Linked DNA regions of Homo sapiens: region 1 is linked to region 2. Evidence: fine-mapped expression QTL. A gene starts in region 2. The other region holds a variant in brackets. All regions are shown on one strand. Distances are between the middles of the regions. Region 1 has its middle 24 kb from the start of ELOA. Region 2 holds the start of ELOA (elongin A).

Region 1 (4,393 bases), 24 kb before region 2:
AGTCAGGAGGCTGAGGCAGGTGAATCTCTTGAATCCGGGAGGCAGAGGTTGCAGTGAGCCGAGATCACGCCATGGCACTCCAGCCTGGGCGACAGAGTGAGACTCCATCTCGGAAAAAAAAAAAAAAAAGAAAGAAAGAAAAAGAAAGGGAGAAAACCAGGCAGATCTATGGCCAGTCATAGAAAGAAAAAGAAAGGGAGAAAACCAGGCAGATCTATGGCCAGTCAGTCTCTTTGGGACCTCTGGGAGTGAAAATCCCCGTCAGGAATTGTTGTCACTTTTCTTCTGTGACATCTGCTTCAGGCTTCCAGCCTTCACCCAAGTCAGCTAAATTGCCATTGTTTCATTAATTTAACAAATGTTGATTGAAGGGCCAAGCCCATGCTGGACCCATCGATGTATCGCCTTTATTTTAGGCGCTTTGCTCTAGTTCACTTACTTATGGGTTCACCAACTATTTAGTGCCCCCACCAGGGATATAGAGATGGTTTAGTCACAATCTGTGCCTGCAGGGAGCTCACAGTCTAGTGAGGGTACCACACAATGAAACACAGAGGAAGACAGACGTGGCTTCTACCCTCATGGTGCTAGACTACAGTGGAGGAAGTGGGGAGGGAGCATAAACCAATAAAAAGTGGACAAAAAGTAATACATATTAAGTATAGAGTTACCATTTGATCCAGCAATTCCACTTCTGGGCATATTCCCAAAAGAATGGAAAGCCCAGGAACCAATATGTGTACACTGATGTTCATAGCACCCCTATTCGTAATAGCCAAAAGTGGAAACAACCCAAATATCCATCAGCAAATGAATAGATGAACAAAACGTGGTCTGTCCATACAATGAAATATTACTCAGCCTTAAAAAAAAAGGAATGAAATCCTGATACGTGCTACCATTTGGGTGAACCTCGAAAACACTATACTAAGTGAAATAGGCCAATCAGAACAGGACAAATATTCTATGATTCCACTTGTGTGAGGTACCTAGAGTAGTCACAGTCACAGAGATAAAAATAGAACTATGGTTGCCAGGGGCTGGGGGAGGGAAAAATAGGGAGTTATTGTTTATTGGGTGCATAGTTTGAGCATGGGATGGAAAAAGTCCTGGAGATGGATAAGATGGATACTGGTGATGGTTGCAGTGTGGATCTACAGAATGCCACTGACTGAATGGCATAGCTAAATGTTAGATATATGTATTTATTTTACCACAACACAAAAATAATACATTTGAGACTTTGTCTTGAAGAACATGAAATTTAAAATTATGAAAATAAATTCATTTTATATTTAACCAACAAAAGGTAATACAAATAGTAGTCATATAATAGCCATCATGGTCAGTGCTACAGAGAGTCCTATCTGGTGTTGGGAGAGAAGATGGCAGGTAAACCTGCTCAGGTTAGTGGGGTTCTGAAACCGAGAAGGGCTTCACCAGGAGAATGGCATTTCAACTAAGCCCTGAAAGAGAAAGCTTGGTGAGAAGGGGTGGGTGTTTGTGGAAGACAAGACATTCCAGGCAGCAGGAACAGCAAGGCGAAGGCCAGAAGCAGGAGCGCCCCTTTGGTGGAGTTGAGGAATTACAAGGTTTGTATGTGGAACACAGAGTGGGGTGGAGGTTGGGCTTGCAAAGGATTTTAGGCCCCTCCTAGGAGCAGATGGAATCCATCAAAGAGTTTGGGCAAGGGATTTTTATTTTTAATTGGTAAGCCCCTTGATTTGGTTAAGTAGAAAGGAATGGAAAATAAAGTTTATTGAGGGGTTTCTATGTGTCAGCTGCTTTACCTACCATTCCCTTCTTGGGTAGAAGCCCTGTGAGGTCAGAATTACTAGGAGATGAGTTCCTTGAGGACAAGGATGAGGCATTCTCAAATCTCTGATACTAAGTAGGACACTTGGCTCAGATGATGTGCTCAATAATGATCCACATGGTTGATTTTACAGATGAGGCTCAGGGAGGTGAAGCCATTTACCCCAAGTGAGCAGGTGAGGAGGCCGTGCAGCCTAGGAGCTGTGCCAACCCTAAGCCCATACCCCTTTCTAGACCATGCTACACATGTCACAACCCCAGATTTCCCTGCTGTTTTCCAGAGCCTCTTCCCTGGGTCCCTCCTCCCCAGAACACTGGTGTGTGTACCCCTAGGCCCAAGGGGTGGCCAAGGGGCATCTGTCTGTGAGTGTGACTTTGCACTTAGGAGCTGGTGTGACC[C/T]CTGGGCTGAACGTGAGGCCCTGTGGTGCAGGACAGAGACTAAGGCAGTGTATTCATTTCCTATTTCTGCTGTAAAAAAATTACCGCAAACTTACTATCTGACATTTATGGAGGCCAGAGGTCCAAAATGGGTCTCACTGGGCTATAATCAAGGTATAGCCATGGCTGTGTCCTTCCTGAGGCTCCAGGGAGAATCTGTTTGCTTGCCTTTTCCAGCTTCTAGAGGCCACCTGTGTTCCTTGGCTGGTGGCCACCTTCAAAGCCAGCAATCCCATCACTCCAGCCTTTGCCTCTGTCATCACATCTTCTCTGACTCTGACTCATGCTTCTCGCTTTCACTTAGAAGCACCCTTGTGATTATTTTGGGCTACCTCAATAATCCAGGATAATCTCCCTATCTTGAGGTCAGCTGATTAGCAATTTTTATTGTATTAAAATAAATAAATTTGTAATATAAATTGAAATGAGGTCTTGCAATGTTGCCCAGGCTGGTCTCAAACCTCTGAGTTCAAGTGATCCTCCTGCCTCGGCCTCCCAAAGTGCTGGGATTACAGGTGTGAGCCACCATGCTTGGCCTGATTAGCAATTTTAATTCCCCCTTGCCATGTAAGATAACATATTCACAGGTTCCTGGGATCAGGGTGTGGACACCTGGGGTGGGGAGGGGACATTATTCTGCCTAATGCAGGTGGGAAGAACAGCATGTAGGTTAGGGGCTAGTTCTCCTTGTGCCACCACATCCCCAAGAACTCTTAGGAATCTGAGAATGTTAAATTTAAACCTAGCCCCAGGTCATTATGAAGGTATATTCATCGAAGTAAGAGAACAGAATAGGATAGGATAGAGTAAAAACTGTATTTAATGGTTTGTTAGTTTTTAACTTTTAAATATTTAGATAAATGGTATGTGGGCCTCTGTATACACTTTTGCCATCAGCCATGCAAATATTAGAGGTCCGTCTAACCCAAAGTCACATAGCCGGTGAGGAGTCAAATTAGAACACAGATGTGTTACTTTCACCACACAAGGCCCCTCTTCAAGGAGAAGTAAGGCACTGTCTTTCTCAGCTTCGAGGCTCTGTATCTCTGCCTGTTTCCTGGTGGTTACAGGCTATGTGCTCTGGAAACTCCTGCTGAGAACCTGGCCTCCTAGCCCTTCTGAAGCTGCAGTTCTTCTCTCACACCGTGTATTGCCCTATGCGGATACCTCTCATACAGACCCTCCACTGGGCCGTTCAAGTCCACGTACTTATGGGTTCACCAGCTAGTTAGTGCCCCCAGCAGGGATACAGAGATGGTTTAGTCACAGTCCCTGCTTGCAAGGAGCTCACAGTCTAGTGAGGACATCACACAAAGAAATGGACAGTGACGACCACACGAGAGACTCCTCCAGTGATGGGTGCACGATAATCTGGGGCAGATCTGGGGTGGGGTTAGGTACAGGCTGCTCAGAGGAAGTGATTCTCAAACTGAGTCTTAATGAGGCCAGGAGGCTGAGGGCTGGAATTTTGGGTTGGCATATTTATAGACCCTGAGGCTGCAATGGGGCAAGTTTGGGAAATCCCAACTCTGTCATGATGACTAGAACAAAGAGTAAGAGGTGAGAGGGGCCAGAAGTAAGGCTTAAAACACTAAGAGCCACAAAAAAAAAAAAAAAAAAAAAAAAAAAGCAAACAAACAAAAAAAACACTAAGAGCCTCAGCCCAGGAATGGTGGCTCATGCCTGTAATCCCAGCACTTTGGGAGGCCAAGGCAGGTGGATCACCTGAGGTCAGGAGTTCGAGACCAGCCTGGCCAACATGGTGAAACCCCATCTCTCCTAAAAATAGAAAAAAAATTAGCCAGGCATGGTGGCACACATCTGTAATTCCAGCTACTCGGGAGGCTGAGACAGGAGAATCGCTTGAACCTGGGAGGTGGAAGTTGCAGTGAGCCGAGATTGTGCCACTGCACTCCAGCCTGGGCAAGAGACTCTATCTCAAAAAAAAAAAAAAAAAAAAAAAAACCCAAAAAACACTAAGAGCCTCATTGACCCTAACAGGCTGTAGGCTTTATGAGGGGCCTAAATGTTACTGTTCATACTGTGCCTATGTACCAGGCACATCAGTGCAAGCAAGGCACGTGGCACATAGTAGATGCTTAGTAAATTTTTGCTGAAAGAATGAATGACAGGGCCAGGC
Region 2 (4,393 bases):
ATCAGAGAATTACACATGTATAATTAGCTGCTCATCCTAGAAGTCATATATCCAGACCAGGCGTGGTGGCTCATGCCTGTAATCGCAGCACTTTGGGAGGCTGAGGCGGGTGGATCACTTGAGGTCAACAGTTCGAGACCAGCCTGGCCAATATGGTGAAACCCCGTCTCTACTAGAAATACAAAAATTAGCCGAGCGTAGTGGCGCATGCCTGTAGTCTCAGCTACTCGGGAGGCTGAGGCAGAAGAATTGCTTGAACCTGGGAGGCAGAGGTTGCAGTGAGCCCAGATCTCGCCATTGCACTCCAGCCTGGGTAACAGAGTGAGACTCTGTCTCAAAAAAAAAAAAAAAAAAAAGTCATATATCCAAATGTAAGAGTACTTTGCAGGTAAGCCTGACTCAGTCTGACATAGGGGTGGCTGTCTGGGAGCAGCACACCCACTCCAGGATCCCCCAGAAGCATTCGTTGTTTCTTTCTGTTTTTTTTTGGTTTTGTTTTTTCTGTTGCCCAGGCTGGAGCAGTGGTGCGATCATGGCTCACTGCAGTCTTGATCTCCTGGGCTCAAATGGTTCTCCTAACTCAGTCTCCCAAGTAGCTGGGACCACAGGCACGCACCACCATGCCTGGCTAATTTTAAAATTTTTGTATTTTTTGTAGAGGCTGGGTCTTACTACGTTACCCAGGCTGGTCTCAAACTCCTGGGCTCAAGCAGTCCTCCCGTCTTGACCCCCAAAGTGCTGGGATTACAGGCATGAGCCACTGTGCCCAACCTCATTGTTTCTTTTCATTTTGGTTATTGAGCTCTCTCTGGATAACATCTGCAGAATGTTTCATGTGTCCCGAGTATGTGCCAGGCCAATTACTCAGCAATTCTGCTTCAAGAATCAGTCTGTATTCCATTACACCAGTGGTACATTTTCAAAATGGAAGGAATATAAAATGTAAAAGTATTTGCTACGCAGAGGAGGGAGACACTACTGCTGGGACTAGAATCGAAGTTTTCTCACACCCAGTTCAATGCCTTTTCTACAACATCCCTCAGTTGAGCCTTAGGGTACCAAGTGGATGGTCATTAGTCTTGTATGGACTTTATATCCAATGCTGATTATAAGGTCTAGATGATGCTAGGTGGCAGAGATTCAAAGTTGGACAGGTCGGTTACTGTACTTGATAAATAAACAGCCCAGTGGCAAGACAGATAAATAAACTGACCATTTACACCCTGAAAAGGTGGTCAGTTGCTTAGGGAACTGGGGGAGGGGCGCCAAATGGAGGAGTAGGGACATGGTAGAGAGGGCTTTTCAGCATAGTGAGTGAATGAATGCTCATTTGAAGAAACAACTTGTGTTTAAGATGTTTTTCTTTCTTCCAGAGCTAGAATCTGGAAGAATCTCTGGGCTTTCCTGCTTTGAGGGAGAGATCAGGCTAGGTGCATTGCCAATTTGCTGCTGAAGATCTGATTAGGTTCTGCTTTGATGTGATCAAATGAGATGTAATCAGTGCTGGTACTTTAAGTGAGTTTGCAACTATTTAGTTGCTCTTTTTAGTAGTAGTATTAGTAATGGTAAAACTTAGTGCTTTTAGGATGAGAGTAGACGGCCTGAAGAATAATATCTTGGGCTCTTCTAATCAAGCCATACGGCTCATTGGCAAGTCATCAGAGGAAACATCTATCTATCTATACATTCATGCAATAAGTATTTATTTAGTGCCTATGTGCCAGACACTGTTTGTGGGGAAAACAAGACACATGGGCTATTATTGCCTCATGGAAGGAACTAAGCTGTTTGGATTTTGAAAAATCCCTTTCTCTGGGCCTCAATTCCTCGACCTGTTCAGAAATGTGCGCTCACAATGGTCCTAGACATCTTAGATTCAGGTTCCATTTTCAGTTCTTTCCTGTCCTGCGGCCATCTGCAAGTTAATTTGGTCTCCCTGAACCTCAGTTTCCTCATCTGTAAAATGAAGATCATACAACTCGTTTCATCAGGTTGTACTGAGGCTGGAAAAGATAGTCTAACTACTGACGCATCGTGTGCTCAGCCTAGGGTGGCTGCTACCGCGGGTGCCTGCGGACTCCTAGGACGGGCACCAGCCCGGGACCCCTGACAAGGTGTTGATTAGGGTGTGGCTAAGCCCCAGGCGGGAGAAAGCGTTGGCATTTATAAGGCCAGGGTCTGGCGCGGTGGCCTCATTCCGTCTTGAAGTAGACCCTGGAGAGGTCTTCCAGGCTTGGGCTCAGCACGCGAGCACAGGGAGCGGGGGTGCCGGCGGCGGAGGCGCGTACGGCCCGAGCAGCCCCCAGCCCCCAGCGCGCACACTTGGGCCAGGGGCGCGAGGAGTGCGCGGCCGCCGGGTGGGCGCTGGGGAGCGGGCCCTGGGGGCGGAGCCTGCAGCCCACCGCCCCCCACACACCCCAGCCGAGGCCCGGAAGGGGCCAGGCGCGCTTCCGTCTCCGCCGGGGATGCACGGAGGGCGGAGCTGCGGCCCGAGGACGCGACGCGAGCCCAGTTCCGGCGAGGAGGCCGCGCCAGTGACAGCGATGGCGGCGGAGTCGGCGCTCCAAGTTGTGGAGAAGCTGCAGGCGCGCCTGGCCGCGAACCCGGACCCTAAGAAGGTAAGCGAGGGGGCGGCGCGTAGCGGGATGGGCGTTGGGTCGGTGAGGGCCCCGTAACGGTCGCGGCCCGAGCGTGGCGGGGTTCGGGGGCTGGGACCCTGAGCCAGGCCCCGCGGGGCTGGGGTCGTGAAGTTCGCGGCCATTGACCGCTGCCCGCGCGTTGGGACCCCGTGCGTCGGGCGTCGGGACGCGGGGCCCCGGCCGCTCCCCCTCCCTCACGGGCCCGGGATGGGGGCGCGCCCGGTGCGGACACCGCGTGCCTAGCGCTTCCTCCCAGAGGCGCTCCGTGGCGTCCCGAGCCAGCTGTTTCCTGCGGGAGAGCGTGCCCGGGGCGGGAGGGCGCTGGCCGCCGCCTCGTTGGCCTCCCGGTGCCTGCGCTGGTGCCCGGCTCCCCGCGGAGCGGCGCGGACTCCCCAGCGGGTGCGTGTTCGCTGGGAGGAGAAGACGGGCGCCCGAACGCTGCGGAGCCTGGACTCGCGGTCTGGTCCGCGCCTCTCGGAGACGCGGTTACTACTCTCCGGCTGGATATCAGAGCGTGGACCTTTCGCTTTCTCAGTGAATCCCTTTCAAAACAGAATAAAGCCTCGCGTCACCTAAGCATACTCCTGAAAACTTAGGTTGGAATTGAAAAAGAGGCGGGGGCCCGGGGTTGGAAGTCGCAGCTAGGTTTCCTTTTGGCCATTAATAGGAAGGTAAGAGCTACCGTTTCTCGTTGTTCGAGTGATGGACAACCATTTTTAATTGTAGTTAACTAGTTTTTGTTGTTTATTGTACAAACTGAATATTAAGTTAAACGCGTTCTTGTACCTTTTCATCTTTCTGTCACTCACTTCTCTGGTCTCCAGGAGACAGTCTGGTGGTTGTCAGGATTTTTTTTTTTCTTTTTTTTTTTTGAGGCGAGTCTTGCTCTGGTCGCCCAGGCTGGAGTACAGTGGCGCGATCTCGGCTCACTGCAACCTCCGTCTCCCGGGTTCAGGCAATTGTCTGCCTCAGCCTCCCGAGTAGCTGGTATTGTAGGCGCCCGCCACCACGCCTGGCTAATTTTTGTATTTTTAGTAGAGACAGGGTTTCACCATCTTGGCCAGGCTGGTCTTGAACTCAGTTGTCAGGATTTTTTAAGTGGAAGTACAACGATGAAAAAGCACTTATGTGTTTGGCATTCTCCGTCATCATTCTGGCCGGGGCGGGCAGTTCTAGGAGTTGGAACTCAGTCCTGGTGGAAAAGGAAGTCGTGGAGGGAGGGCTAGGGCCGTGGGGGAACTGCTCTGCTGAGCCTCTTCCTCACCTGCTGCTTCCTAGGACTAACCTGAAAGGCTAAGGTACCAGGCTGAAAGTCAGTGCTCAGAAAACCAATCGTCATTCTTTGGGGTTTTTTTTCTTGAAGAGCCACTTTCTCTTTACCTTGTTCTAGCCTGTTGGAGGTAGGGTTTCTGCAATTCCAAAGGCCGTACACAGCCTCTCACCATCAGACCACTTTTTAAGGCTCTTCGTTCATACCTAGCTCGAAGATTCACTTCCTCAGGAAGCCATTTTAGTTACAAATCTGGGAAAACTTAAAATGCTTTCATTGTGCCATGTTTTCTGTTGCAGCTTCAGTACCGTACCTAGTGGTCAGGCATACTTACAAGTTTCTTTTTACAGTAACCCCTTGTGGACATCTAATAAATGGTCATTATTTTTTAGTACTAGTTTGTTTTCCTGAACACTGTAAGATCTGTGACTGACGTTTGATACCTTAAAGCAGTGCCATATAATAACTACCCACTATTTGTTCT

What was found.
Region 1: its variant is fine-mapped to the expression of ELOA in whole blood (INTERVAL, PIP above 0.99).

The regions. Positions count from the first base shown.
Region 1 is chr1:23,717,116-23,721,508 of GRCh38, forward strand. No RefSeq gene overlaps it. Among named protein-coding and RNA genes, the nearest start is that of ELOA, 24 kb to the right of the region's middle. The variant C/T (reference allele first, on the strand shown) is at 2,215.
Region 2 is chr1:23,740,961-23,745,353 of GRCh38, forward strand. It overlaps ELOA (elongin A), which reads left to right and starts at 2,511. Exons shown (of 11, transcript NM_003198.3): 1 at 2,511-2,618. The coding sequence starts at 2,544. RefSeq lists silencers at 2,313-2,542, 2,693-3,172.